Linked DNA regions of Homo sapiens: region 1 is linked to region 2. Evidence: fine-mapped expression QTL. A gene starts in region 2. The other region holds a variant in brackets. All regions are shown on one strand. Distances are between the middles of the regions.

Region 1 (15,651 bases), 140 kb before region 2:
CAGAACACCAAGTCCCAAGACTTCATAGAGCAGCAGAGGCCCTGGACCCGACCCAGGAAACCATTTTTCCCTTCTAAGCTTCTGGGTCTGTGATGGGGGGGAGCTGCTGCCAAGATCTACGACATGCCCTGGAGACATTTTCCCAATTGTTTTGGTGATTAACATTTGGCTCCTCCAGCATCAGGATAAATAGCTAATGTAGGCAGGGCTTAATACCTAGGTGATGTGTTGATAGGTGTAGCAAACCACCATGGCACACGTTTACCTATGTAACAAACCTGCACATCCTGCACATGTATCCCAGAACTTAAAATAAAATAAAAATTTTTTAAAAAGCCTCCTCATTACTTATGCTAATTTCTGCAGCTGACTTGAATTTCTCCCAAGAAAATGGGTTTTTCTTTTGTACCGCATCATCAAGCTGCAACTTTTCGAAACTTTTATGCTCTGCTTCCCTTTTAAACGTAAGTTTCAGTTTCAGATCATCTCTCTCAAGTTCAAACTTCCACAGATCTCTGGGTCAGGGGTAAAATGCCTCCTGTCTCTTTGCTAAAGCATAGCAAGAGTGACCTTCGCTCTAGTTTCTAAGAAGTTCCTCATCTCCATATGAGACCACCACAGCCTGTACTTCATTGTCCATAATACTATCAACATTTTGGTCAGCCGGGCACGGTGGCTCACGCCTGTAATCCCAGCACTTTGGGAGGCCAAGGCAGGTGGATCATGAGGTCAGGAGATGAAGACCATCCTGGCTAACACAGTGAAACCCCGTCTCTACTAAAAATACAAAAAATTAGCCAGGTGAGGTGGCAGGCGCCTGTAGTCCCAGCTACTCGGGAGGCTGAGGCAGGAGAATGGTGTGAACCCCGGGGCCAGAGCCTGCAGTGAGCCGAGATCGCGCTACTGCACTCCAGCCTGGGCGACAGCTAGACTCCGTCTCAAAAAAAAAAAAACATTTTGGTCAAAGCCATTCAACAAGTCTCTAGGAAGTTCCAAGGTTTCCCACATCTTCCTGTCTTCTTCTGAGTGCTCCAAACTGTTCCAACCTCTGCCCAATACCCAGTTCCAAAGTTACTTCCACATTTTCAGGTATCTTTATAGTAGTGCCCCATTCTCTGCAGTACCAGTTTACTATATTAGTCTGTTCCCACACTACTATAAATATACTACCCAAGGCTGCGTAATTCATAAACAAAAGAGGTTTGATTGACTCACAGTTCTGTGTGGCTGGGGAAGCCACAAGAAACTTACAATAATGGCGGAAGGCAAAGGAGAAGCAGGCACCTCTTTGTAAGGCAGCAGGAGAGAGAAGAGAGAGTGAAGGAGGAACTTCCAAATTCTTATAAAACCATCACGTCTCGTGAGAATTCACTCACTATGAGGAGAACAGCATGGGAGAAACTTCCCCAATGATCCATTCACCTCTCACTCAGTCCCTCCCTTAACACATGGGGATTATGGGGATTACAATTTGAATCGAGATTTGGTTGGGGACAGAGAGCCAAACCTTATTAATATCTAAATTTAAAAATATGCTTCTGAACAATCAATGGATCAATTAAGAAATTAAAAGGGAAATTTAAACATTCCCTGGGAGTAAGGAAATTGGAAAAAAATATCAAAACCTATGGAATACAGGAAAACCAGTTCTAACAGGGAAGTTTATAGCAATAAATGCGTACACCAAAAAGAAGAAATATCTCAAATAAATGACCTAATGTTGCATTTCAAGAAACTAGAATCACAAGAACAAAGTAAGCACAACATTAGTAGAAGGAAAGAAATTACAAAGATATAGCCTTATGTGATATGTAGAACACGAACTCTAGCTATGAAGCACCTACCCAGTGTGGTAACAGTAGTCACTCTGTTGGTTGTCGGGGGAGTGTGCATGTGTAAACTTTCACTCCATCTCAGTCATTTCTGCAGTGTTGAATTACTTTCCACGGGGTCAGATTATCTGGGGAATGAAAGCAAAGACTTAAGTTGGCTACAACTGAAGGGAAGCCAGCCTGGTCTGACCCCTCGACTCATGCTCCGGCCTAGGTGCAGAGGGCCCTGTGGTTTTGGCTCCGGTTCTCTGGCTGCAGGTTCCTCCTGAACAGGCCTAAGAAGAGAAGAATGCTGCCTGCAGAGGGCAAAGTGTCGGAGAACAGGACGTAGATACGGTGTCAGCCCCAGGGGTAGGCTCTCTGTGGGGACCTTGCTCGGTGAGATGCTCCCTCAAGCCACAAGCCACTCCAGACACCAGGCACCCTCTTCCTCCCCCAACACCTTCCTCACAGACAAGACAGGTTGGTGTCTTTTGTCCTGATGTCTTTGAGCTGACAGACCTAGTTTTGGACACATAGATAGGTAGGTATGCACGAGCTGGTGGCCGCAGGCTTCCACACAGCTTGGGCTGACTCTGCAAACAGGGAGACTGGAGACACAGCTACGGGAAGGATGACACAACATGGTCTTCACCACACCGAGGCTGATCTGGGTACTTCTGCCGTGTACCCAACGTAAAGCAACGCTTATTAGGTTGTCACCTCAAGGGGAGCAGCCAGCTGCCTGGTGGAAAGTGGATTATATTGGACCCATTCTCTCATTCAGGGAGCAGGAGGATTTTTGTCCCAGGAATAGAGACATTTTCTGTATATGTATCTGCCCTCCCACCTGCCACAGTTTTGCCAGCAAAGCCATCTATGGATACCCTAAAGGCTGATCCCCATCACTTTCTCCCAAAAAAGGTTCTGTTCAACAGGAGATGAAAGATTTGCCTGGCCATTTGAGGCTCCTCATTGTATTGAACCAACAAGTCTTCCTCCATTAAATCTGAAACCTGCCTACCTAGTCATTAGTCCATCCCTCATCCCCTCCCCCCCTTGTAAGTTGGGACTCCACACCTAGACCCTCATCTGACTCTGAGTTGCATACTACAGGTGCAGGGTTCTGTGCGTGGTTCCAAGCAGCTGCGGAATGGGACCCTAGTGTCCCAGTTTCTTCTGAAAGGCCTGAGGGACAGCAAGGCTTGGAGGCCCCTGCTGTTCACCACCTTTCTGCTAATCTACATAGTGGTTGTGGTTGGGAGCCACATGTTCACAGTGGACTACCGACGCCACACTCCCATGTACTTCTTCTTGGGCGGCCACTCGCTGATGGATGCCGCCTGTATCTCCAACATGGTGACTCAGGTGCTGGTGCATTTGCTGGCTCAGGTAGGGCCCGTACTTTATTGTGCTTGTCTCATCCAGATATGCTTTCTCCACTTCCTGGCACCCTAGGAGTCCTTCCTCCTCACAGCCGTGGCCTATGATTCTATGCAGCTATCTGCCAGCCATTGCACTACTTTGTCCTCGTGGGCCGACTGACCCACACGGGCCTCACTTCCATCTCCTGCCTGCTGGCCTTGGCCAACGCATTCACCTACAGCATCCTCACAGCTCTACCCAAGTTCTGCAGGCCTTGCCTCATCACCCACTTCTTCTGCGACCTCCGTCACTGCTCAGACTCTCTTGCTTCAGCACACGTACCAATGAACTTGCCCTGTTCTTCAGTTTTCTGGTGGCTCTTGCACACTGCGTCCTGGTCGTGGTCTCCTATGGACACGTTGTGGCTGCTGTTCAGGATTCATTCCACCCAGGGCTGAAGAAAAGCCTTTTCTACCTGTGTTGCCCATCTCACTATGATCGGTCTTTTCTACGTCACTTCAGTCCCCTGCTACATCCTTCCCAACTCTGCATACTCTGGCTTGGGCGACTGGGTGCTCTCTGTGCTATGTGTGGTCCTCACTCACATGCTAAACCCCATCTTCCCCAGCATGCTGGGATGACAGGCATGAGCCACCGCACCGGCCAGGAAATATTTCTTGAAAGAAAGAATGAGAGAGTACCTCGTGTCTCCCCATTATGGGGTTTGGCACTGGGGATACAGAAAAGCTCCAGACAAGCTTCCTGCCTTTATGGAGCTCACAAAGTAGGCTGGGCTATTAGGCACTAAGACAATTCACTGTCATACAATGGTTACTCGCCATTCCTTCACAGGAAAGGGTCACTCACCCCTACCACCAAACCTAGGAACGGCCACATGCTGCTCAAAGGGTCAACACAGCTGCCTTTCACTGTTCTCAAGTGATGGCGGGTGGGCGCTCAGAGAAGACCAAAGGCTCAAGGCCAGGACACTAGGCCATCCGGGGCTTCCCAACAGACCCCCATCCCGAGTCCCGCACAAGAGCCTGCAATGACCCCCACAGGGCGAAACAAGCCGTGCTCATCAGCCCTGGTAGGTATGGCTGGGCCCTCCCCCTGGGCCATATGAGGCCAGCCTACATCATCCCCACTTAGACCGCCCCACTCAGGCCAAATTCCTAGGAAAGGGGCCGGGAATCTGTGTAGACCGGGGGAGATTGTTCTCATCATATAGGTGAGAGATGATGCCGACCTGGCCTAGGGAGGGTGGAGAGGACACATTGAAGGAAACTGACTGGACGGAAGGTGAGATGACAGAGTGCGGGACCATGGAAACGCGTGTCGCCAAGACAGAGAATGAAGCAGAGGGAAGCCATTCCGGGAGTCGGGGGACAGGCAGTGAGGTCAGCTGGGGGCAGGTTGGGTTGGAAGTACCTACAGGCCATCCAAGCTCACATGACTGTGCTGGTTTGAAACTCTGGAATTCAAGCAAAGAGATCCCTGCTTAACTTTAATTCAATGGCCCTCTTTGAATATAGACATCCTGGCCCTGTCACCTCTGAAGCTTCACCATTCCAGATGATGCCTAATGTGATTTCAAATACATTTCATCCATTCCAAGCAAGTCTTCTCTGATTCGGAAACACAAAGACTGTCTGCCAGCGTGTGTGGACCAGGACCGGCCCTCTGGAGGGGAGGGGCTGTTATGGGCCTCGGTAGGTTTTGTGTTTAAGCACACATGTGTTCTTCATGAGTACCTCCAAGGTGCAGAAGAAAAAAAAAATCTCAGTGTGTAATAGTGACAAAATGCTGATGAAGCAAACTATCAACAGCCCTCTGGAGGAATAACTTTCAAGGTAGGATGAACTGTGTGTGTGGAATTTGGAAACAATTGTTTTTTGGAAGCGGCTGAAAGCCACAGAGATGACCAGGAGAGCCGGGCGACATCTGCCCCGTGGTGTCTAGCGTGGGCCCCGAGGCTCGGTGACTTCAGAGACTTCATCACGGCACCGTCCGCCTCATTACATCAAGAAAAGGTGCCAATTAGAACAAGTTTCAGAGGAAAAATATGGCCTCCAATGAATTGAACAGGCTAATTTAAACTTTGGCAAACTGGCTCACTCCAGAGCTAATTAGAAATTTTCCTCAACAGCAAGTAATGAATAACTTTCTTAATCGCTTTCTGCTTATAAATGTAATACATGTTCACTGCAAAAGAAGAGGAAATATGGGCAAGTTCGGAAGAGAAAATAAAAAACCAACCGTTATCTCACCGCCAAGGATAACGACAATGAAAATGTGGTGTATTTCTGGATAAATGAGCCAATTCTTGTCTAGTGCTTACAACAGTGGCTTGGGACATGGTGACCACCCAACAAATGTTATTGGTTATTATTATTCTCATTGCTAGTAGGCTTAGAAAAGTCTTTTCCAATGCTATCCCTCCCCCAGCCCCCCACCCCCAACAGGCCCCGGTGTGTGATGTTCCCCTCCCTGTGTCCACATTGTTCAACTCCCACTTACGAGTGAGAACATGCGGTGTTTGGTTTTCTGTTCCTGTGTTAATTTGCTGAAAATGATGGTTTCCAGCTTCATCCATGTCTCTGCAAACGACATGAACTCATTCTCTTTCATGGCTGCATATATTTCATGGTGTATATGTGCCACAGTTTTAAAATCCAGTCTAACATTGATGGGCATTTGGGTTGGTTCCAAGTCTTTGCTATTGTGAAGAGTGCTGCAATAAACATACATGTGCATGTGTCTTTATAGTAGAATGATTTACAATCCTTTGGGTATATACCCAGTAATGGGATTGCTAGGTCAACAAGTTGATGGGTGCAGCAAACCAGCATGGCACATGTATACCTATGTAACAAACCTGCACGTTGTGCACATGTACCCCAGCACTTAAGGTATAATAATGAAAAAAAGGAAAGAAAAGAAAGAAAGAAAGAAAAGGAGAGAAAGAAAGAAAGAAAGAGAGAAAAGTCTTTTCCATTCCAACAATCAAATAAAGTTCATCTAAATTTTCTTCCAATGTTTTTACTTTTATTGTGTATATATTAGGTCAATACATTCTAAACACTTCAGATACTATAGAAATATTTCTCTATATAGCATTCCCCCGTGCTTCTACTGAGATATGTATCGGCAGCCTGAGAAGTCGGCATTCCTTTGTCCACACCCATCCCCGTGCATCCGTTTCATTTCATTCGCTCCACAGTCAGCCGCACCTCAGAGTTGTCCTTCAAAGGGTGAGAGACTAAGACTTTTATCCAGTGACTCTTGGCCCCATCGGTGGGGGGCTGTGTCCAAGGGTACAACTTCCCCAGAGCTTCCAGGCCCACCCTGTGCAGGGCGCAGGAGAAAAAGCAGATGTGTTGTGAGCTGCAGGAGAGGCGCTGGCACAGGGCACAGAGGTCCCCACCCCAGCAGCCGAGAGGCAGAAGGCACGTGCAGGGGGCCCAGAGGCTCAGCAGGATCTGAGATGTGAGAAGATGTCTACGAACACAGAGGCGCAGGAGGAGGCCGGAGATGACGGTCACTGGAGGGGCTCTGAGACGTGCACAGAAAACAGGACAGAGCTTGGCAGCAGCACTCATTTGTCGCCCTGCCACACACAGCCTGTGTTTTCTCCTTGACAGCATCTCAGTAGGACCCAATAATGCCAACGCCTGGAGATCCCTCTGGACAACCGTCTTCATCCTCCACATCTGGTCCTCCCCTACACCTGGGGCCTGGACCTGCTAAGGAGCTCTTTCCAGTTTTCTAGACACCTGTGGAATCCCTTCACCCACCCTTACCCATCGGTGTGGCTGCTCTCCAGCTCACTCTCGTCCTGCTCTCCCCAACTGCCTCGGCTCCAGGGGGACGAGGCTTTCCCTGGGCTGCTGCCTTCCCTGCCCCCTTCCCAGTCCCCAGAAGGGTGCCAGCCTCAGAGGCCTCCAGAGCAGAGCCTTGCTCACCGCAGCAGCTCCAGCTGGAGGAGGTTCCCCCTGCCTCCTGCACCCTGACCCCTTCTTAGAGCAGCAGAGGCAGAAGCAGGAGCCTGCTTTGGAAAATGACATGTTTTTATTGCTATGTCTGCAGTGGCTTTTTAGCACAGTAGAATGTCCCCGCAGGCCCGCCACCCTCACCCAGCCCCAGCCCTGCAGCCTCTGTCTGGGTGTCGGGGAAGCCTTTCTTGGGGTCACTCAGCCGTCTGAGGACTGGATGTGGCACAGACATACATAGGTTAAAGCTGCTACACGGAAGACTGGAGATGCGGGAAGTGCATTCGCTTTAAGCCTAGAGGTGGTAGCCGTGTCCGGGGTCCCTTCCTGGGGGTGTGCCTGTTACCGAAATACCAAGGGTTTGGTCTACGTCCTGCTGCTGGCCGCACAGAAAGCCAATGACTGACTGAGACGAAGAGCATTACCAGGGAAGACGGCTTTAATTGGGTGCTGCAGCCGGGGAGATGGGAGTTAAGTCTCAAATCCATCCCCCTGACTAAAACTAGGGGTTTATATAGCCAGGAAGAAATGCACCAATGTGTAGGAAAACAGGAACTCGGGAGGGCCCAGAAAGCAATCCTGATGAATTTGGGGGGTCCAGCATCTCATTGTCTGGATGTGGTTATCTGGTGAGTTTCAGTTCTTTGATATTTTGAGAGGCCCGAAGGTCATTTCCTGAGGAAGGAATTCAGATAAAACAACTGTAAGGTTCAAGCTTGAAGACCAGAAGGGTCAGTTTCTATGTGTATCAAAAAGAACAGCCTATGGGACGATTGGATCGGTTTCATGCCCAACCCAGGGTACAGGATGTGGGAAGCCTGAGCCGGCCTGGTGAGCAGCCCAGACACCCGGGATGGAGTATTGCAGCCTCTCGCCCCACAGACTTGTGAACAGGGCGTGGGGACAGACACCCAGCTCCTAGGGCCATGCCACCCCCACCCCTGCCCGCCTCTCGCAGCACCTTTCCTGTGGATCTGACCCCCTTCCAGACACAGAAGTAAGCCAGCACCCAGCAGACACAGGGTCACCTCCCAGCTCCCTACCAGGCAAGAGCGACCAGGGCAGGGACTGATACTGCCGAACCCAGGAGCCAGGCCCGACCCAGCCTCAGGTCCAGCAGGTCCCGCCTGTCCACCTGGGCCAGGCCTAGAGCCCGGGAGCCCCTGGCTGGTGGGAGGCCACCCGCAACCCACCCCACACGCAGCTCCAGCTCCCCCACCAGGCGGGGCGACTAGGACAGGGACAGAACCCGTTGAACCCAGGAGTGAGATCCGGCCCCGGGTCCCGCTGGGCCCTCCCGTCCACCTTGGCTGGACCTGGCGCCTGGGAGACCTTGGCTGGCGCGAGGCCACGCCCACCAGACATGCAGTTCCAGCTACCCCACCAGCTGGGCGACCAGGACAGGGACGGAGGCTGCTGAGCCCAGTTAGAGGCCTGCCCCCCGGGGTCTGTCCTGGGCGCTCCCCCAAGGACGGACAGGGCAGACAGGGTCCGGGACGATGGCCGCACAGTCCCGGCCCCGTGTTCCCAGGCCCGTCTTGCTCCTCGATGTGAGGGAGACCCGGGGGATGGGACAGGCTGGGCCCCGCAGTGCCTGACTCCCTGCAGGGCTCCCGGGACAGGGGTCCGGCGGACAGCCGGCTGCTCAGGGGTGAGGGGTCCAAGCTGGCATTGCGGCCACCTTCCGGCCCGGGCTCTCTTGGGGAGGGGCGGGGTTGGTGAGAACCGGTCACGTGCTCCGGGGCTCACTCGGGGTCTCCCAGGGCCGGAAGTAGGGCCCCTGTGCGCAGGCGCCCTGAGGATCCCGGGCTGCCCATCTCACGCCAGGGGGCGGAACTTCCTGCAGCCTCTCTGCCTCCGCATCCTCGTGGGCCCTGACCTTCTCTCTGAGAGCCGGGCAGAGGCTCCGGAGCCATGCAGGCCGAAGGCCGGGGCACAGGGGGTTCGACGGGCGATGCTGATGGCCCAGGAGGCCCTGGCATTCCTGATGGCCCAGGGGGCAATGCTGGCGGCCCAGGAGAGGCGGGTGCCACGGGCGGCAGAGGTCCCCGGGGCGCAGGGGCAGCAAGGGCCTCGGGGCCGAGAGGAGGCGCCCCGCGGGGTCCGCATGGCGGTGCCGCTTCTGCGCAGGATGGAAGGTGCCCCTGCGGGGCCAGGAGGCCGGACAGCCGC[C/T]TGCTTGAGTTGTATCCTGTTCTGTTCTGTTCTAGGAGGTTCTGGTGGCGAGGTGGGGGCCGTGAGACGGAGACAACAGGGTCAAGAGGTGGGGGGCAGGGCCAGGAGGTGGGTGAGGGCAGGGCCAGGTGCGGAAGGTGGGGTTTGGGAGATGGGGGTAAGGCGCCGGGTGGGGTGGGGGTGGGGGCTGGGAGTTGGAGGTCGAGGGGTGGCTCAGAGGAAGGGAGTAGGTAGGGGATGGGAGGTGGAGCGTGTGCACAGTTGGGTGCTGGGCGATGGGGTGAGGGGCAGGGGGACAGGAGACAGGGGTTCTTGGGTGTGTGAAGGGATCAGGAGTTGGGGGGAAGCGTGCAAGGTGGGAGCCGGTGGCTGGGGTGTGGGCTGGATGGGGGTGGTGTCAAGCGATGGGGAGAGGTCCCGGCTGATGCGGCAGGGGGCATGGTGGGGAGGGCCTTGGAAGGGCACGCAGGAGTCAGCTTGAGGTGCAACAGAGGAAAGTGGGGAATCAAGACAGCTGGGTGGGGTTGCTGCAGGACCTGGGCCAGTGCGTGGGGAGACAGCCTGAGGGGATGAGATGGGCACCGGCCAAATCCTAGGAGATGGCACCTTAACTGGGTCCCCACCAGGCACATCACGATGCCTTTCTCGTCGCCCATGGAAGCGGAGCTGGTCCGCAGGATCCTGTCCCGGGATGCCGCACCGCTCCCCCGACCAGGGGCGGTTCTGAAGGACTTCACCGTGTCCGGCAACCTACTGTTTATGTCAGTTCGGGACCAGGACAGGGAAGGCGCTGGGCGGATGAGGGTGGTGGGTTGGGGGCTGGGATCCGCCTCCCCGGAGGGGCAGAAAGCTAGAGATCTCAGAACACCCAAACACAAGGTCTCAGAACAGAGACCTGGTACACCAGGCCCGCCGCCACCCGAGGGAGCCCAGGGAGATGGGTGCAGAGGTGTCGCCTTTAATGTGATGTTCTCTGCCCCTCACATTTAGCCGACTGACTGCTGCAGACCACCGCCAACTGCAGCTCTCCATCAGCTCCTGTCTCCAGCAGCTTTCCCTGTTGATGTGGATCACGCAGTGCTTTCTGCCCGTGTTTTTGGCTCAGGCTCCCTCAGGGCAGAGGCGCTAAGCCCAGCCTGGCGCCCCTTCCTAGGTCATGCCTCCTCCCCTAGGGAATGGTCCCAGCACGAGTGGCCAGTTCATTGTGGGGGCCTGATTGTTTGTCGCTGGAGGAGGACGGCTTACATGTTTGTTTCTGTAGAAAATAAAGCTGAGCTACGATTCCGTGTCTGAGTCTCTTTTCGGCGAGCGAAGGCACCTTCGGACTTGCATGCCCTTGTCCTCGGGTTGTAGGGGAGGCTCTGGGATTCACAGATTGAAGTAGCACAAGGTAACGGGAGGCAATTTGGGAAATGGGGGAAAATGAAAAGCCACTGGGTCCCGCCATTCAGCATTAACTACTGTGGACATTTTAGAATATTTTCCTCAATATACTTGCATTTATATGTTAAATATATGACAGTAGCATATATAATGTTTTTCCAGGTCAGCATTAAATTTTTTCCCAAATTGTTTTCATTGAACATATGAGCTTTTGTGCTTTCTAAAAATGCTTCAAAAACATGTACTTGAATAGATGCATAAAACCAGCATTATTTCACTGTTAAACATGTGATATGGGCCGGGCATGGTGGCCCACACCTGTATTCCCATTGTTCTGGGAGGCTCAGGTGGGAGGATGGCTTGAGACCTGCAGTTGGAGGCCACCCTGGGCAATGTAGTGAGATTCTATCTCTATAAGAATCATTTAAAAATTAGGGGTGGAGGGAGTGGTGGCAGGAACCTGTAGTCCCAGGTACTCAGGAGGCTGACGTGGGAAAGTGGCTTGAGTCCAGGATCTCGAGGCTGCAGTGAGCTATGAATGCATCCCTGAGCTCCAGCCTTGGCGACAGAGCGAGACCCTGACTCTAAAGTAATAATAATAGTAAATGTGAACAGCGTAAAATGTTTGTAAACACGTAATGTTAACACAGATTCTCTTACTGCTTGCAGAGTCTAATGAACAAGAGCAAGGTTTCCTGTAAAGAAACTGACTTTCTGCCATGCTTGGTTTAGGGGAAGACGTACAGGCTCCTGCCTTTAAGAGCACTGCTTCCCATTGGGGGCAGAAAGCAGGGCCTTTTAAAGGAGGACTTGGCGTGAATGGTAGGCAGGGGAGGGAGCAGGCAGCTGTGGGGTCTGCATGACATGCTGAGGTGTCTTGTCTGCCGGGAGGTCACGCTGGCACCATCTTGGGCAGAGCTAGGTTGGAAAGGGGCTGTTTGTCAAAGCAAAACAGACATATGCTTGAGCTGTGTTCTGGGATGCTCTTAAGTTGCTCGGAGACAACTTGATCCCTTTGAGTTTTGTTTTAGCATTTGCTCGGTGGGAACATAGCAGATTTTAATGTAAGATTAATAATATTAGTTGACAATCTCCAATGCTTGGCAAGGCTGTAGTTGGAAACGAGGACTCATACACTGTCAGTAGGAGTGGTAGTAACATCTATCTGGACATTTATTTGGCATTTTCTATTAAGGGAAAGATGTACATTCCCTTCCACCCACCTTGAGGAATCCATCTGAGAAACTCCTGGATATGCAAATGAGGTAGAATCCACCAGCATCTTAATGACACCACCACGTAAATAGTTTTTAGAATGTAAATGTCCACCAGCTGCGGAAAGGCTGAACAAATCACTGCACAACTGAGGAAGGCGAGGGGGGTTGGTACATCCAGGCTGTGCCAAAGCCGGTTCTGTCTCAGAGCAGAGGAGTTTTTCCAAGAGACGTGGGCACGCTGTGAGGAAGTCCCAGCAGGAAGCCAGGCGAATGCCACCTCCGCATGCCTGCCCCGGAGGGTGTGAGCGGCTTCCTTCTCCTCTGGATCGGTGGTGTGTTAGGAGAGGCCCGGCTCTCTGTCAAGGCCAGGGACGGATGGAAGCTGAGAGAGGACGCTGAGACCTGGGGAGCTTCCTGGAATGCAGGGACGCAGTGAACTCGCTCTGTTTCAGCCCGAGGTGCGCAAAGGAAAACTGAAAGACCAGCAGCAATGTCAGAGAGACCTTCCTGTCATGCCAGCGGGATTCCTTGGGAGCCAGTGAGCGCTCCAGCCCTTGAGGGCTCTGTCACAGCTGGTGGGAGCATGGGTCAGGGCTGTGGCAGAACACACCCCAGCCTCAGGTGAAGAGGTCCCTAATGCTTCCCTCTAGCCCTCATATTCCAGAATTCCAAGTCAAGTCTGAAGAGTCCACTTAACTTCCGTCCTCTCAAACATGCAGAGTGGTCGTCACACGCGGTTAGAGGAGTTTGACTCCTGGTGAAACGGGGAGGCCCGGGCAAACCTGGCCACGAGTCCAGCATGTGCCCGCCCCAGCAAGGTCACCGTGCCCCAGGGGAAGCAGCACCGGGAGAGGTCACCATGCCCCAGGGCCGCGACCCTGGCCGGGCTGACTCAGAAGTCCAGCTGCATTGCAGCTGTAACTGCATCCAGACAACTTTGACCAGGTGCTGAGCCACTGGCCCCTGCAGCCAACATCACGGGCACAAAAGCAGAAGCCCAGGGAGCAAAGATGAAGATCCAGGAGCACAGTAACTGTCAGGTAGGGACCTGCTGGCCCACTGAGTCTGGGAGCAACACCACAGGCGCTGCAGGGAGACCCCCGGAGTGACCCGGGGCCTGTCTCCAGAGGGCGGCCCTTCCTTAATTGGAGCTGCCTCTTCCCCTCCTGCCCTAGGATGTAAACCCTGCTTGGCTGAGGTATTGAATTCACGGGGAATCTGACCCCGCTCTGCCCATGATGCTCATCTGTCCTCTGGGGCCTCATTCCCTGAGCTTCCCAGAGCGGCCTCCTTTGTTTGGCTCAGCTCTGTGTCTTCCTTCCTGAAGCTGTGTCTCCAGTGTGTTAGGCTTCCCCTCTCTTCCCTCAAGTGGCCTCAAGGGCCCAGGAGGAAACGCAAGAGGGCAGGAGGGCTCCCTGAGGTGGAGAGCAGACAGAGAGCAGGTTCTCCTTCTGCCCTGTCTTGAAAGATGCCCCCAATTTACACCCACACGGGCGCCGGAATGGCCAGGTTGGTGAGGAGGGGGAATGGGCGAGGCTCCCATGCAGACACCCAGAGAGGTGAGTCCCTGAGATGGAGAGAAAGGAGTATCCGCGAGCGCACTGCCCTGTGGGAGAGGGAGAATCTCGCTGTTTGCAGAGTCAGCCGTGTGGAAGGCTGCGGCCATCTGTTTTTGCGTGTGTACCTACCGAGGCAAGAAGATCGCTTGGGGTCGAGAGTTTGAGACCAGCCTGGGCCACAGAGCAAGACCCTGTCTCTACAAAAATAAAAAAAATTTTTTTGTTTTTGAGACGGAGTCTCACTCTGTCGCCCAGGCTGGAGTGCAGTGGCACTATCTCAGCTCACTGCAGGCTCTGCCCCCCGGGGTTCATGCCATTCTCCTGCCTCAGCCTCCCGAGTAGCTGGGACTATAGGTGCCCGCCACCACGCCCGGCTAATTTTTTATATTTTTAGTAGAGACGGGGTTTCACCATGTTAGCCAGGATGGTCTCAATCTCCTGACCTCATGATCCGCCCACCTCGGCCTCCCAAAGTGTTGGGATTACAGGCGTGAGCCACCCCACCCAGCCAAAAATAAAAAATTTTTTAAAGTGACATTTGAGACGTACTTTTAAGTGAAGCTGATGTGTTTGGTGTTATTTTCTTGCAGAAAGTGAGGGGCATTAGTGTAAAGGATTTTGGAAGTGTTTAAAGAAACAAAAGGGAGTGTTGAGACGCCATCCACCCCTGAGAGAAGCTGCGTGGTATTATGGCGGGTGGGGGCACCAGGATGGGTGGTCCCACTTCTGGCCTCTGACTTCCTGAGCCTCAGGCCCATGTGGGCCCAGGCAGGGCCCGGCAGGCCGGGCTGCCCAGCTCCCCTCCACTGTCCCCTCTGCCACCAGATGCCATCCGGCAGAGCAACCAGATTCTGCGGGAGCGCTGCGAGGAGCTTCTGCATTTCCAAGCCAGCCAGAGGGAGGAGAAGGAGTTCCTCATGTGCAAGTTCCAGGAGGCCAGGAAACTGGTGGAGAGACTCGGCCTGGAGAAGCTCGATCTGAAGAGGCAGAAGGAGCAGGCTCTGCGGGAGGTGGAGCACCTGAAGAGATGCCAGCAGGTAGTCGGGGCAGGGCCAGGTTCTGAAAACCCGCGGTGACGCCAGTGTTCCACAAGGGAACCCGTGGTCGGGGTCCCCCAAAGCACCCTGGGGCTCAGTGCTGTGCCGGGAGGGCTCGGAACTCAGAAAAGCCGTCACACTCCCAGTTCCGGTTTATTACAAGGAAAGGACACAGGTTACGGTGAGCGAAGGCTCAGGGCGCACAGGGCGGGCTCCAGGAGAGACCAGGCGTGAGCTTCAGCGGCTCCTCGCCCAGGGGAGTTGTGCAGACGGCACCTGTTTCTTTCGGCAACAGTGTGGGACAGCGAGCACGGAGTCACAACCGGGAAGCTCACCCCAGCCGTGGCGGCCGGGGTTTTCACGGGGGGTGGGCCGCGTGGGCACCGAGCGCCTGCGTGGCCAACCCTGGTCACTCGGCTGTAGCCACCAGAGGTCCAGCTGTGTGGCCCAAGGCTCCCCCCATAAATCGTGTCATTAGCACAGACCGCCTGGTTTCAGGGTCTTTGTGTGTGGGCTTGGCTGATCGCAGGATCCTGGCGATGGTAGTCAGGAAGGGGCCGTGCTCCCTTTGAGGGGCAAGGTGGAGAGAAGTGCTGGAGAGGAGACTTGCTGGCGGGTACCTGGCACTTGCCACAGCCAGGCTCCACTCCCCTGGGGAAAGGCGTGGATGGTGGGCTGTGCACGCCGCTCCACTCAGGGCTTAGAGCGCCTGGCTTAAGGCGTTGATTTCCTGTGTGGGAAGTGGATGAGTTTTCTACAGCTGCCGTGACCAAGCACCACAGACTGCGGGGCCGAAGCCACAGAAACGCGTGGCCTCCCGCTTCTGGAGGCCTGGAGGCTGAGCTAGCGGTGGTGTCGGCAGGGTGGGCTCCCCGCCAGGGCCGCGAGGGAGCTGCCTTCCAGGCCTCTCCACGGCGCCGGGGGCCGCCGGCTGCACCTCTCCAGCCTCCATCTCCGTCATCCTGTGGCCTTGTCCCCGCGGGCCTCTGTGCCTGTCCTCCTCTTTTGACAAGAACACCGGAGATACACAAAGGTACACAAAAGCGGGCCTTTGTTCAAGCTGGCAAAAGAGATCTTCTTCAGAAACCCCTGCTTGCGGGGGAGAGAGCTGAGCT
Region 2 (15,651 bases):
CTAATTTTTTTATTTTTAGTAGAGGTGGGGTTTCACTATATTGGCCAGTCTGGTCTCGAACTCCTGACCTCGTGATCCGCCCACCTCGGCCTCCCAAAGTGCTTATAGGCGTGAGCCACCGTGCCCGGCCCCTCCTGTGTACTTTTTAAATTTGTATTTTTTTTTTAATAGAGTTGGGATCTTGCCATGTTGCCAAGGCTGCTCTTGAACTCCTGGGCTGAAGCAATCCTCCTGCCTCAGCCTCCCAAAGTGCAGAACTCCCCAGTCCTCCCATACACTTGAAATAATCTAATCATCTCTAGATAACTTATAGTATCTAATACAATATAAGTACTACGTAAATAGTTGTTTCACTGTCTTGCTGCTTTTTTTTTTTTTTTTTTTTTTTTTTTGAGACACAGTCCAACTCTGTAGCCCAGGTTGGAGTGCAGTGGCCACAATCTCGGCTCACTGCAACCTTCACCTCATTGGTTCAAGCGATTCTTGTGCCTCAGCCACCTGAAAAGCTGGAATTAACAGGCACGCACTACCACCTGGCTAATCTTTGTATTTTTAGTAGAGACAGAATTTTGCCATGTTGACCGAGCTGGTCTTGAACTCTTGACCTCAGGTGATCCGCCCTCATTGGCCTTTCAAAGTGCTGGGATTACAAGCATGAGCCACCACACCCACCCAGTGCTGTTATTTTTTAGTGGTGGTGGTGGTGGTTTTTTTTTTTTTTCCCAAACATTTTCTGCTTAAACAATATGATCCTGAATGACCAGTGAGTCAGTGAAGAGATTAAGAAGGAAATTGAACATTTTCTTCAAATAATTCTGGGTAGCGCTGTACACAGCAAATGTCTGGGGTCGTCTTTCTGAGTTCTTTTTTCAGATGTTCAGCCTCAGGGAGCTTTCTGGCAGGAAAATGAGACAAGATCTACCTTTTGGCCAGGCACGGTGGCTCACACCTGTAATCCCAGGACTTTGGGAGGATGAGGCAGGCGGATCACTTGAGGTCAGGAGTTCAAGACCAGCCTGGCCAACATGGTGAAACCCTGTCTCTACTAAAAATACAAAAATTAGCCAGGCTTGGTGGTGGGTGCCTGTAATCCCAGCTACTCGGGAGGCTGAGGCAGGAGAATCACTTGGACCCGGGAGGCGGAGGTTGCAGTGAGGCGAGGTCACACCATTGCACTCCAGCCTGGGCAACGGAGTGAAACGCCGTCTCAAAAAAAAAAAAAAAAATCTATCTTTCTCCAAAGCCAGCAATACAGTGATGTTCCAGCATCTCATGACCCAATGACCCATCACATGGGGTTTGACTGCTTCCCAGGGTGAATGCAGGCAGTCCTGAGGCTGACAGTACATTTATCCAGCTGACCAAGCAGCTCATTCCCATATACCATTGAAAAGCCAGCCGGGTGCCGTGGCTCACACCTATATATCTCAGCACTTTGGGAGGCTGAGGCAGGCAGATCACCTGAGGTCAGGAGTTCAAGATCAGCCTGGCCAACATAGTGAAACCTCGTCTCTACTAAAAATACAAAAATTAGCCAGGTGTGGTGGCGGGCGCCTGTAATTTCAGCTACTGGGGAGGCTGAGGCAGGAGAATTGCTTGAACCCGGGAGGCGGAGGTTGCCAGTGCTCATTTATTTTTACATAAACACACTCTTTGAGGCTGAAGTAAATCTGACTGATTTTCAATGTGAAAATAATATATAAAAACTGTACTTGGAGTTATTTCTAAACAGAACTAACATCAGAATCATCTATTTTGGAAAAATCTGATTCATCAGATGAATCTTCGGCTAACAACATTTTCTACGATTTGACATTTTCGGCAATTCAGAATTACTATTTTTTTGTCAATGGAAATACCACTACTAAGAAAGGAATGCTCTAAATAGAGTGATGTCTTTTGTTTCCAAAGTCGATATACTAGAGCGATGAAAAAATAATAAAAGGAAGATACTTCATGGCAAAGTTATCTCGGGGTAAACACTGCAGCCACAAGCACCACCAGCGTATTCTCAGGGCAAAGGTACCAGTAACCTGCTTGTTGGTTCAAAGGTCCAGCATCTTCGCTCTGAAGCCCAAGAATGACTTGAAGACAAGGAAGCCATGTTTCTGCTCAACTCCAGGCTGAAGTTACAGGTCTGAGGAAAGAACAAGGTGCATATAAATGGAACCCATGTCTTGGAGGACATCAGAAAGGGAACTGTCAAGTCCTTTCTTGTACAACCTAACTGTTCAAGTTAGCACACCATCATTTTAGTATTTTAGTCTTCCTAGTGGAGCTGCTTTTTTTTTTTTTTTGGTGAGATGAAGTCTCACCCTTATTGCCCAGGCTGCTGGAGTACAGTGGCATGATCTCGGCTCGCCACAACCTCCACCTCCTGGGTTCAAGCAATTATCCTGCCTCAGCCTCCCCAGTAGCTGAGATTACAGGCACCCGCCACCATGCCTGGCTAATTTTTGTATTTTTAGTAGAGACGGGGGTTTCACCATATTGGCCAGGCTGGTCTCTTGGCCAGGCTGGTCTCGAACTCCTGACCTCATGATCCGCCTGCCTTGGCCCCTTGGTGAAGGGGTGGCCTGCCCCTCCATATCTGTGGGTATTTCTAGTTGGGTGGGACGAGAGACTGAGAAAAGAACTAAGACACAGAGACAAAGTATAGAGAAACAATAGTGGGCCCAGGGGACCGGCGCTCAGCACACCAAGGACCTGCACTGGCCTCTGAGTTCCCTCAGTTTTTATTGATTATTATTTTCATTATTTCAGCAAAAAGGAATGCAGTAGGAGAGCAGGGTGATAATAAGGAGAAGGTCAGCAAAAAACGTGAGCAAAAGAATCTATGTCATAATTAAGTTCAAGGGAAGGTACTATGCCTGGATGTGCACGTAGGCCAGATTTATGTTTCTCTCCGCCCAAACATCTCAGTGGAGTAAAGAATAACAAGGCAGCATTGCTGCCAACATGTCTCGCCTCCCGCCATAGGGCGGTTCTTCTCCGATCTCAGAATTGAACAAATGTACAATCAGGTTTTATACCGAGACATTCAGTTCCCAGGGGCAGGCAGGAGACAGTGGCCTTCCTCTATCTCAACTGCAAGAGGCTTTCCTCTTTTACTAATCCACCTCAGCACAGACCCTTTACGGGTGTTGGGCTGGGGGACGGTCAGGTCTTTCTCATCCCACGAGGCCATATTTCAGACTATCACATGGGGAGAAACCTTGGACAATACCCGGCTTTCCAGGGCAGAGGTCCCTGCGGCTTTCCGCAGTGCATTGTGCCCCTGGTTTATTGAGACTAGAGAATGGCGATGACTTTTACCAAGCATACTGCCTGTAAGCATTTTGTTAACAAGGCACGTCCTGCACAGCCCTAGGTCCCTTTTAAACCTTGATTTTATACAACACATGTTTTTGTGAGCTCCAGATTGGATCAAAGTGGTTGGGTCAAAGTGGCTGGGGCAAAGCTACAAATTAACAACATCTCAGCAAAGCAATTGTTTAAAGTACAGGTCTTTTTCAAAATGGAGTCTCTTATGTCTTCCCTTTCTACGTAGACACAGTGACAGTCTGATCTCTCTTTTCCCTACACTTGGCCTCCCAAAGTGCTGGGATTACAGGCGTGAGCCACCGCACCCAGCCTTATTTATTTATTTATTTATTTTATTTATTTATTTAGAGACAGAGTCTCGCTCTGTCACCCAGGCTGCAGTGCAGTGGCACAATCTCGGCTCACTGCAACCTCCACCTCCCAGGTTAAAGCGATTCTCCTGCCTCAGCCTCCCGAGTATCTGGTATTACAGGCGTGTACCACCATGCCCAGCTAATTTTTGTATTTTTAGTAGAGACGAGGTTTCACCATGTTGGCCAGGCTGGTCCTGAACTCCTGACCTCAGGTGATTCACCTGCCTCAGCCTCCCAAAGTGCTGAGATTACAGGCGTGAGCCACCGTGCCTGGCCCCTATTTTATTTTTTTGAGACAGGGCCTTGCTCTGCTGCCCAGGCTGGAGTGCAGTGGTGTGATCATAGCTCACTGCAGCCTTGACCTCCTGGGCTCAAGTGATCCTCCCACCTCAGCCTCCCAAGTATCTGGGACCACAGGTGTGCACCACCACATGCTGCTAATTTTTGTATTTTTGGTAGAGATAAGGTCTTCCTGTGTTGTCCAGGCTGGTCTCGAACTCCTGGGCTCAAGTGATACTCCCGCCTGGGCCTTCCAAATTACTGGGATTACAGGTGTGAGCCACTGAGCCCAGCCTGGGTGATGTTTTAGCTGTACCTTAAACAACTTTAGCAGATGTGGATTAAGACACTAGGAGCCAATGAGACTTGGCAATTAATGGCTGGGCGTGGTGACTCACGCCTGTAATCCCAGCACTTTAGGAGGCCGAGGCAGGTGGATCATTTGAGGCCAGGAGTTCAAGACCAGCCTGGCCAACATGGTGAAACCCCGTCTCTACTAAAAATACAGAAATTAGCCGGCCAGTAGTGGCACATGCCTGTAATCCCAGCTGCTGAGGAGGCTGAGGCAGGAGAATCGCTTGAGCCTGGGAGGCAGAGGTTGCAGTGAGCTGTGACTGCGCCACTGCACTCCAGCCTGGGCAACACAATGAGACCCTCTCTCCAAAAAGAAAGAAAAAAATCGTGAAAAATGAGGCAATGCAGTTATGTGTTGGCTGTGTCAGGTCAGGTTTCTGCATTTTATCACCCCCTTCCTGCACAGGAATCTTCAACATGGTTTCTGTGGAGTCTAGCTGCCCTTTATTTATTTGTGTAAATATATATATATATATATATATATATATATATATATATGCAGGGTCTCACTTTGTTGCCCAGGCTGGTCTCAAGTTCCTGGCTTCAAGCAATCCTCCCACCTCAGCCTCCCAAAGTCCTAGGATTACAGGCGTGATTCACTATGCCCACCTCAGCCTCCCAAAGTCCTAGGATTACAGGCGTGATTCACTATGCCCACCTCAGCCTCCCAAAGTCCTAGGATTACAGGCGTGATTCACTATGCCCACCTTAGCTGCCCTTTCTTGGACGATCAGGCCCAGAGCTGAACCTCAGAGGCACCGCGCATCAATCCCCAGTTGAGTAGCCTGTAGCTGCCCCGCTTGTTGCCAGTTGTTGAGCATGAACTCCCTGCGACTGCTGATAAGTCCCCTTTATCTGCGCTCCTCTCTATACACAGCCACCTTTTGTTCCCATAACAAGCCTTCAGGTCTCCACATTTGCACATCTCAAATTCTGTGTTCCACGTAGGTGGCTCATTCAGGGCCCTTCTCAAGCCACTTTCTAAAAGTGTCAACCAGTCACTGTTAACTGATGCTTCTGTATTGGTGGAAATGAAATATCTATTGATTTCCGTGCATGGTGGCACATGCCTGTAATCCTAGCACTTTGGGAGGCCGAGGCAGGCGGATCACCTGAGGTCAGGAGTTCGAGACCAGCCTAGCCAACTAGTGAAACCCCATCTCTACTAAAAATACAAAAAAATTAGCCGGGTATGGTGACAGACGCCTGTAGTTCCAGCTTCTCGGGAGGCTGATGCAGGAGAATCACTTGAACCCGGGAAGCAGGAGTTGCAGTGAGCCGAGATCACGCAACTGCACTCCAGCCTGGGCAACAGAGTGAGATTCTGACTCAAAAAAAAAAAAAAAAAGAAAAGAAAAGAGAAAAAGAAATATCTATTGATAGAATTTTTAAAAGAACTCTATATTTCTATGGACATATATATGAGCCCATAAAAGTAATACATGGCCGGGCACAGTAGCTCACGCCTGTAATCCCAGCACTTTGGGAGGCCAAGGCCGGCAGAACACGAGCTCAGGAGTTTGAAACGAGCCTGGCCAGCATGTTGAAACCCCGTCTCTACTAAAAATATAAAAATTAGCTGGGTATGATGGCAGGCACCTGTAATCCCAGCTACTTAGGAGACTGAGGCAGGAGAATTGCTTGAACCTGGTAGGCAGAGGTTGCAATGAGCCAAGATTGAGCCACTGCACTCCAGCCTGGAGACAGAGCAAGACTCTGTCTCGGGGGAAAAAAAAAAAAAAGTAATATACACACACACAAAAAGATAGTAGTGATGGTTGTACAACATTGTGAATGTAACTGATGCCACAGGATCGTATACTTAAAATGATTTGGATGGCAAATGTTATGTTATATATGTCTTACCCCAATACAAAAGTACATCTATAAATATATAGTATTATTTTGGGTGTGCTCCTCTCTGTATAGAGGTTATCCCGTGGTGTGTGTCTGTAACTTGATTTTTTCCAATTCTGCCCTCAGTTTCCTGCTCTTTCCGGGCCTCAGGAGGCTTGACATCCCTTTGACCACAGCACTGAAAGGTGTTCTCTTTGCTGAGAACTCAGTGTCTTCTGCCTGGCAGAGGCTTCGGCCCTCTATTTTTGTTTCTATCCCTTATGCATTCTCCCCGGCAGGTGCCCCTCCCAGCTTTAAGTGTATGTATACTCTGGATTTTTCCGTCTTCAGAACAGTGCTCAAAAATACCTGGGGTGTCCTTCTAACAGAAAGTGCAGAGACGTCTGCTGCAGGATTGCCCACCCCCATTTTGTAACATCTGCTATTTGAGAACTGCTGAAGCTGCCCTGATCTATGAGGGCTGACCTGGAAGAACAGATGACTGTGAGTGTACCCCAGGACGTTGGCCTGGATGGTGACAGACCATGTGCTCTAGTCACCGTGCTGGCCAGACCCCCACAGGAATCCAAACCATCCCAGAGAAAATAAGGGACTTTTGCAAGGCTGCCCCAGGAAGCACGGAAGACGTGGAACTGAATCCCAGGCCTCTGGCCCATCACCCACGTGGTGTCCCCAAGGAAGGGAGAGTTGTCTCGGAATGCTCAGGGGGACTCATTAAAGCAACACTTTCATAAATGCCTGCTCTGAACAACATGTAAATATTGTCTTTGAAAAACACCGGCTGGCAGCTCAAGGGTGTGAGTAACCTGGAGCTTCTTCGACTGGGCCCCCCTGAGGAGGGCATGGAGCCCAAGATTCGTTACCATAATTACTTGAGAGGCTGTCAAATTCCATGACAAAACGCAAATGCAAAGCCCTGGCCCCAGCAGCAGGCAGCTGAAAGGGACCTTGACCCTGTTGAGTACTCCAGTATAGAAGCTGCTGGATTCTAACCAGGGCTCTCCCATGCCCGGCTCTATAAACTTTCTCTATATTTTGCATTGTTTCCCTAAGGGTAGGAGATTCCCGTAAGTTGGGTCAAAGGGCAGGGAGGTTTCCGTGGTTCTCATTGGGCCCTGCTGCTGCTCTCCAGACAGATGATGGATCAGCTGTCAGGGTGGCCCCGGCCATGCCAGCGCAGTAGGTGGTCAGGGCGCACTTGGGGCAGCCGGCAGGGCAGAAGGGACGGGAGCTTGACCCGTGTTCTCATGGGCAGAGGGAGCCCGGGCAGTGTTGGGGGCAGCGTGCGGGCAGGCGCGGAGGGGAGATAGCCAGGCAGTCAGGGAGAATTGGGGTGACTGGAGAAAGGCCGAAGGGCCGCGTCTGCCTGCGGCCGGAGACCACCCCAGGTCCATACAGCCAGCTGGGTGCCGGGCACCATTTGGAGCCGCTGGGAAAGCCAAGCACCGCTCTTTCTGGAGCCTTCTTTTTTCCTATTGTTAGGGAATTCACGACGTCACACTTGTTTTCAAGTGAAAATAAGAGTTGTGTAGGACGCGAAAGTCACGTGACTTGAAAGCTGAACCTGAGAGGCCTCAAAATAAATTCTGGTTTGCTGTGAAAGCCTCGGGTTATAGCGCTAAACTCCCCCCTCCACTGCCCCCGAAAGTTGTATTCTCCTCTGCTTTTAGGGTGGGGTGTGGCGTAAACAACACAGCTTGAGCAGCTCTGAGGAGGAGGGTGTTAGAGACCAGGCAGGCGGAGCAGGCAAGAGTTTTCAAGGATGTCGAAATAGTTTGAGACGCCCCGTCCCATTATAAAAGTGATAACGAGAGACAGCAGGAACGCGCTTCTGGACAGAAAACAGACCCTAAGGAAAGGCAGCCAGAGGCTCACGCTGGATCCTGCGGTCTTCCCTATCTGCGCCTCTGTACCTCCCTTGCCTTTACAAAGCGCATGGATCAACTTTGGAACAGGTTCTAATTCTGCCCCAGATCCATCTGCGTCTTCCCACGACTCACAAATCTGACCTCAGGGTGCAAGCGCAGCCCCAGCCCTCTAAGCCTGGGTAGGCAGGGCTCTCCCACCCGAGAAAGGGCCGAGGGGAGACTTCCGGGGCGGGACCGACGTGGGCCCCTCCCACTCGGCGGCCGGTGGGTTCAGCCTGAACGCACTGCGGAGGTGGGGCCGACGAGGGATCCAGGGGCGGGACAGGTTCGGGGCGGGACAGGTTCAGGCCCCTCCCATGCGGCGGCCAGCGCGAGCGGTAGAGGCGGGTCTGGAGGCGGGGCCTGCGTGGAGCCAGACGGCGCAGCTGCTGCCGGGGGCGGGGCCGGCGGGCTGTGGCCCCGCCCTTAGCCGCCATTGCCGGGCCTGCCTGGCCACCCTGCGCAGCGGCCTTGCGTCCTCTCCCGGGGCGGAGCGGGTCGGCGGGCCTGACAGGGAACCTCCCTGACCGAGCCCACGTCTCCCCACGGCCAGAGAAATCTCCGGCCCGGCCCGCATCGCCAGCCCCCAGGCCCGGAGGAACGGCCCGAGCCCAGGAGAACCACATCTTCGTCCCAGCCCCGGAGGCTCCTGTGGGCAAGATCGTGAGCCAACGGGTTCCTGAGGCCCCTCCTGGCCAGGCAGGGTTTCCCCGCGCGTTTCCGAGGAGCCCTGCCTGGCCGGGCGGCTGGACAAACAGGTCGTAGCACCGATCGCGCCCGCCCCCAGCAGGGGTCCCGCACAGGCTTGCCCCTGACCCCCACCCAAACCTGTCCTTCCGCTTTGCCCCCAAACAGTGCACTTGCCGGCGGTCCCAACCCAGCAGGAGAAGTGGACATGAGGTTGGCAGGTGGGTGGCTTCCACAGCGAACGGGAGGGAGTTGAAAAGGGCACCTGGCTGGAGGCCCAGCGTCGCGACATCTGTGTCTGGAGAGGCCCGGGTGAACCACTGGGTTTGGTTTTGGAAATGGAGGACTCTGCACAAACACTCGTTCCTTGACCTTAACCAAATCCTTTCACCTCTGAGGACGTCAGCTCCCCGAGCTATGACATGAGGATTAGTATAGTCAGTATCTCCCAACGCAGGTAGCAGACCAGCTGCTTTTTGGAAAATGAGTGGTGAGAGAGAGGAGGTGGGCAGTCCAGGTGGAGAGGCGTGGTCTTAGAGGGGAAGTGACAAAAGTGGCTGTGGGCTTCGACATGAACCCGATGACAGCCCTACTGTCACCTGGACAAGTAAGATGAAGATCCTTGGGGAGGGATAGGTTGGGGCTGGGTGGAGAGTAGAAACAACTCGGGAATTGGACTTCAGACTTGCTAAGGTGGTAACTTTGTGGACATATCCAGGTGGAGCTGGCCACTGAGGAACCAGCTGGCAGGGAGTGGTTTCAAGAGAGGCCACGGCTGGAACTAGAAAATAGAAAGTCATTGACACATGGTGCTTAATTAAAGAGCTAGGAGTAGATGACATCATCTAAAAACACACTACAGGCCGGGCGCGGTGGCTCACGCCTGTAATCCTAGCACTTTGGGAGGCCGAGGTGGGAGGATCACTTGAAGTCAGGAGTTCGAGACCAGCCTGGCCAACATGGTGAATCCTCATCTCTACTAAAAAAATACAAAAAAATGAGCCTGGCGTGGTGGCGGGTGCCTGTAATCCCAGCTACCCGGGAGGCTGAGGTTGCAGTGAGCCGAGATTGCGCCACCGCATAACTCCAGCCTGGGCGACAGAGCGAGACTCCGTCTCAAAAAAGTAAAGACAGCTGGGCGCAGTGGCTCACGCCTGTAATCTCAACACTTTGGGAGGCCAAGGCGGGTGGATCACCTGAGGTCAAGAGTTCGAGACCAGTCTGGCCAAGATGGTGAAACCCCGTCTCTACTAAAAATACAAAAATTAGCCAGGCATGGCCGGGTGCGGTGGCTCACACCTGTAATCCCAGCACTTTGGGAGGCCGAGGCGGGCGGATCACGAGGTCTGGAGATCAAGACCATCCTGGCTAACATGGTGAAACCCCGTCTTTACTAAAAATACAAAAAAATTAGCCGGGCGTGGTGGCGGGCGCCTGTAGTCCCAGCTACCAGGGAGGCTGAGGCAGGAGAATGGCGTGTAACCGGGAGGCGGAGCTTGCAGTGAGCCAAGATCACGCCACTGCACTTCAGTCTGGGCAACAGAGCAAGACTCTGTCTCAAAAAAAAAAATTAGCCAGGCACGGTGGTGCGCGCCTGTAATCCCAGCTACTTGGGAGGCTGAGGCAGGAGAATCGCTTGAACCCAGGAGGCGGAGGTTGCAGTGAGCCGACATCGCGCCATTGCACTCCAGCCTGGGGGGCAAGAGCAAGACTCCGTCTCAAAAATAAAAAAAATAAAAAGACACTACAGGTAGGGACCAGAAGGCAGCCTGAGATGGGAGCCTGGGAAAGTCCAGCTTTTAAGGGGAGGGTAGAGGAGACGATCTAACTAAGGAGAATGAGGAGTGTCCAGAGAGATTGGGTCAGGAGAGTGTGCTGTCCGGAAAGCCAGCAGAGAAGTTAGTGCTTCTGTCAGGTGGACATGGGCAGCCCACTGAGAGGTCAAGGAAGATCAAGGCTGACAGGTCACCAGGGGTGGTGACACCACAAAGGTCATCAGTGGCCTTGGCAACAAGCTGATTTGGTGAGGTGGTGGAAGCCAGGCCAGACTGGAGTAGGGTGGGAGGGAGTAGGAGGTGAGATGATGGAATGAGTATAGATGACTTTTGAGGGGGTTGACAGGGAAAAGAAAGGTTAGGGGAAAGAGGATGGGGATGTGGTTTTGAAGAAGAGTGTTTTCTTTGCTTCCTTAACATTGGAGATGTTGAAAATACAGGAGAAAGAGCGAACTAGAGAGAGTGATCACTATTACAAGAAATCAGAGAAGGCTGGGGAGCTTGCAATCCAGGTCCCAGCAGATGACGGGACTGTTGTTGTTTTGGTTTTGTTTTGTTTTGTTTTTGTTTTTGTTTTGAGGCAGAGTCTCACTCTGTCGCCAGGCTGGAGTGCAGTGGCATGGTCTCAGCTAACTGCAACCTCCGCCACCCAGGTTCAACTGATTCTCCTGCTTCAGCCTCCTGAGTAGCTGGGATTACAGGTGCGCGCCACCATGCCCGGCTAATTTTTGTATTTTCTGTAGAGGCAGGGTTTCACCATCTTTGTCAGGCTGGTCTCGAACACCTGACCTCATGATCTACCCGCCTCGGCCTCCTAAAGTTCTGGGATTACAGGCGTGAGCCACTGCGCCCGGCCGGGACTGGTCTTAAAAGGGAGTAGGGACCCTTCTCCCTCAGAACAGGAGGAAAGCAGGGGCAGGTGGATGCCCAAATATATTGGTGGTTTCAGAGGCAGGAAGTTGAGGGGGTTCTTGGAAAGAGGGCTGGAGCCCTTCTCGAGCAGAGAGTTCTGGAAGGCCCCCTCCCAGACCCGCCAGGGAAAACCAAACCCAGCAGCCTTGGGATTTGAACTCAATTTCCTCCTTCCACCTGCCAGGGAGCTCAAGTCTCCCTTTCAGCCCTGGTAGAAGGCAACAGGTCTCCACCTCCTTGTCCTCCAGCCACTTCTTCCCAAGTGGCAGGGGAGATCCAGTCATGCAAGGCTATGGGGTCATTCTGGGGTTCGCTGGTATCTGAGGTGACCCCACCCTGTGTCTATCCTGCCTCCAGGCCCTCTCCGCATTGTGGTCCTAGTCGTCAGTGTGGGTGTCACATGGATCGTGGTCAGCATCCTCCTGGGTGGGCCTGGCAGTGGCTTTCCTCGCATCCAGCAACTCTTCACCAGTGAGTGTGGGACCCCGCCTTATCCTTCTCTGGAGGCCACCAAGGTGGCCACCTGGGCCTGTGGTTGAGGCTCTGGGTTGGGAGTTGACTTGGGTTTTCTATCTCCTCCCTGGCAGGCTACCTTTGGCTGTCCCCAGTCTGTCTCCTGGCATCAGGCGCAGCCTCCCCCAACACCCAGTTGCTTCATCTAGGAAAGCCAATACCTGATCACTAGAATTATATGCCCAACTGGAGTCAGTAGGGCCAGAGTAAGGGGTAGGGAGCTTCCACTGAACATGGGGAGTGATGCCCCGGTTGCTCCCTGCAGGCTCTGAGATGGAGAGGGGACTCTCCACCTTGTTGACTGGTAATAGGTCACCTGAGTACTTTTTTGTTTGTTTGTTTGAGACAGTGTCTCACTTTGTCTCCCAGGCTGGAGTGCAGTGGTGCAATCTCGGTTCACTGCAACCTCTACCTCCTGGGTTCAAGCGATTCTAGTGCCCCAGCCTCCCGAGTAGCTGAGACTACAGGTGCGCACCACCAAACCCGGCTTCTTCTTCTTCTTCTTCTTCTTCTTATTATTATTATTATTATTATTATTATTATTATTATTATTGTATTTTTAGTAGAGATGGGGTTTCACCATGTTGCCCAGGCTGGTCTCAAACTCCTGGGCTCAAGCAATCTACCCGCCTCAGCCTCCCAAAGTGCTACAGGCATGAGCCACTATGCCCGGCCAGGTCATCTAAGTAGTTTTTCTAATTCCATTTCCCCCTGTTCCTAGAGTAGGGAGTTTTTCATCTGAACATGACTTACACTTGAGCAGGAAGCATGCCAAGGTCGGCCTGGCTTAGCCCCCGGCCCCTGAGCCTGACTGCCTGTGTCTACACTTCGCGGTGTAAGGAGGGCCAGGCTGCCCTGCCGCAGGCCCCGGGAGGCTCCACACTAACAGAAACCACTCTGTATCCACAGGTCCAGAGAGCTCGGTGACTGCAGGTAAGGCCCCTGTCACCTCCCTGCTCCTCCCCTTTGTGACATCCCTGCCTGCCCCCGGTCCCGTAGGGCTTCGGTTTTCCATTTATTCCTCCCCAAACCAGCTGTGGTGGTCCACGGGGGCTGCTTGCCACTGTCAACCTACAAAACAAGTTACTTCCTGCCAAGTTACTTCCTGCCAGAATATGACGGTGGGGCAGGCCTAGGATAGATACTCCCACTGCAAAAGGGCAACTTGGAAGGAAAAAAGAGGTCACCCGTCCCAAGCAAGTCCAAAGCCCAGCAGGGCAAAATTCATTTGGTTTCAAGGCCTGAGGGGAATCCTCTGTGGCCTGAGATTCTTTCTTCTGGGCCTGCTGGAATGACCCATGCTCTGAAACGAGACAGCCCCACCTTCGGGGCCACCCTTCCTTCCCTTTATCTCATCTCTGCCCCCTTCACTCCAGGCCGGCAGTGTTTCTGCTGGTGTCAGATTCTCAAGAGCCTTGTTGGTCTCTTTTGCAAGTTATAGAGGCCCAAGCTATAAAATCAGAGAGTTTTCCCACAGACGCTTCCTAGATAACCCCATCTTCATTGTAGATTTCTGCTGAAAGGGTTGAGTGGACCCACGAGTCACATACCTCAGCTCTGGGGCAAACGCTTGAACAGCCTTGCTGTTCTGTCCAGGGGACACTTTTGCAGTTTTTGTAATATGATTAGGCCAAGAATTTTCCACATCTTCGCTTTCTGGCTCCTTTGTGCTCAACAGTTTCTTCCTTATGTCTCTCACATTTTACTATAAGCAGCAAGGAGAAGTCAGGCTACGCTCTCAACACTGCTTGGAAATCTCCTCAGCTGAATATCCAAGTTCAGCACCCAGCACTTACACATTCTCCTTTCGACAAAACACTAGAACACAATTCAACCAAGTTTTTTTTTTTTTTTGAGACGGAGTCTTGCTCTGTCACCCAGGCTGGAGTGCAGTGGAGCCATCTTGGCTCACTGCAACCTCCGCCTCCCGGGTTCAAGCGATTCTCCCACCTCAGCCTCCTGATTAGCTGGGATTACAGGCACCTGCCACCATACCCAACTAATTTTCATATTTAGTAGAGATGGGGTTTCACCGTGTTGGTCAGGCTGGTCTCGAATTCCTGACCTCAAGTGATCCTCCCGCCTTGGCCCCGCAAAGTGCTGGGATTATAGGCGTGAGCCACCACACCTGGGCCAAGTTCCTTTATAACAAGGATCAGCTTTCCTCCAGCGCCCAATAACTCAATAACATGTCCCTCATTTTCCTCTGAGGCTTAACCAAAAGCACCTTTTTTTTTTTTTTTTTTTTTTGGTAGAGACAGAGGTCTTACTCTGTTGCTCAGGCTGGAGTTCAGTGGTATCATCCCCGTGCACTGTAAGCTCAAACTCCTGGGCTCAAGCGATCCTCTCACCTCAGTCTCCCAAGTAGCTGCGACTACAGGCATGTGCCACCACACCCAGCTAATGTTTTATTTTTTATTATTTATTTTTTGAATGTATTGAGACAGGGTCTTGCTCTCTCACCCAGGCTGGAGGGCAGTGGCGCAATCATAGCTCAAGTGATTCTCCTGCCTCAGCCTCCTGAGTAGCTGGGATTACAGGCATGTACCACCACACCCAGCTTATTTTGTATTTTTTGTAGAGACGGGGTCTCACTATGTTGCCCAGGCTGGTCTTGATCACCTGGCCTCAAGTGATGCTCCTGCCTTGGCCTCCCAAGGTGCTGGGATCACATGCGTGAATCACCACACCCAACCCAAAAGCACCTTTAACATTCATGTTTCTAGCAACGTTCTGTTCTTGATGATATTTGTATTCTCTAAGACCACAGAGGCTGTCTCTATTGCTCTCCCCTCCTCTCACCAGAATTACCTTTAACATCCATACTCCTACCAACAGTCTCTTAAAGGCAATCCAGACCTTTTCTAACATGTACCTCAAACTTCTATAGCCTTGATATGGTTTAAATGTCATCTCTAAAACTCATGTTGAAATTTGTCAATGTATTGGTATTGAGAGGAGGGCCTTTTTGAGGTAGTTACGTCATGAGGGCTCTGCCCTCATGAATGGATGAATGCCACTATTATGGGTGAGTTAGTTACCTTGAAGTTCAGCCCCCTTTTTTCCTGCGTCTCATATGCTTGCTTCCACCTTCCACCTTTCTGCCACGGGATGACCCTCACCAGATGCCGGCGCCATGCTTTTGGACTTCCCAGCCTCCAGAACCATGAGCCAAATGAATCTGTTGTCTTTATAAATTACCCAGTCTGTGGTATTCTGTTATGGCAGCAGCAAATGGACTAAGACAAGCCTCTACTGACTACCCAGTTCCAAAGCCATTTCCACATTTTTAGGTATTTGTTACCTAAGCACCACACTTCCTGGTGCCAAAACCTGTATCCATTTCCTGGAACTGCCATTTCAACTGGGTGGCTTAAACAACAGAAATGGATTCTCTCCCCATTCTGAAAGCCAGAAGTCTGAAATCAAAGTGTCAGCAGGGCGTTACTCACCCTGAAAGTTCTACAGGAGGGTCCTTCCTGACCTCCCCAGGTTCCAGTGGCCCCAGGCATACCTTGGCCTCTGGCTGTGTCACTCCTGTCTCTTCCTCCACTGTACCATGGCTGTCTTCCCTCTGTGTGTCTTTGTCACTTCTGTTCTTATAAGGACATCAGTCATGTTGCATTAAGGACCCAACCTACTCCAGTATGACCCCATCTGAACTGCAAAGGCCCTATTTGCAAACATCAC

Evidence for each region.
Region 1: its variant is fine-mapped to the expression of FAM3A in monocytes after LPS (Fairfax 2014, PIP 0.92).

Annotation. Positions count from the first base shown.
Region 1 is chrX:154,646,947-154,662,597 of GRCh38, reverse strand. It overlaps CTAG2 (cancer/testis antigen 2), which reads left to right and starts at 9,019. Exons shown (of 3, transcript NM_172377.5): 1 at 9,019-9,351; 2 at 9,967-10,101; 3 at 10,331-10,621. The coding sequence starts at 9,083. The coding sequence ends at 10,469. LOC105373387 (a long non-coding RNA gene) reads right to left here and starts at 8,863. Exons shown (of 2, transcript XR_938543.3): 1 at 7,594-8,863; 2 at 7,229-7,507. It also overlaps the pseudogene IKBKGP1 and the pseudogene OR3B1P. The variant C/T (reference allele first, on the strand shown) is at 9,341.
Region 2 is chrX:154,509,091-154,524,741 of GRCh38, reverse strand. It overlaps FAM3A (FAM3 metabolism regulating signaling molecule A), which reads left to right and starts at 8,510. Exons shown (of 9, transcript NM_021806.4): 1 at 8,510-8,982; 2 at 11,806-11,919; 3 at 12,871-12,894. The coding sequence starts at 8,970. It overlaps LOC124905229 (a long non-coding RNA gene), which reads right to left and starts at 9,262. Exons shown (of 2, transcript XR_007068357.1): 1 at 9,027-9,262; 2 at 1,613-2,137. RefSeq lists silencers at 7,864-8,020, 8,236-8,645 and enhancers at 7,996-8,618, 8,619-9,242.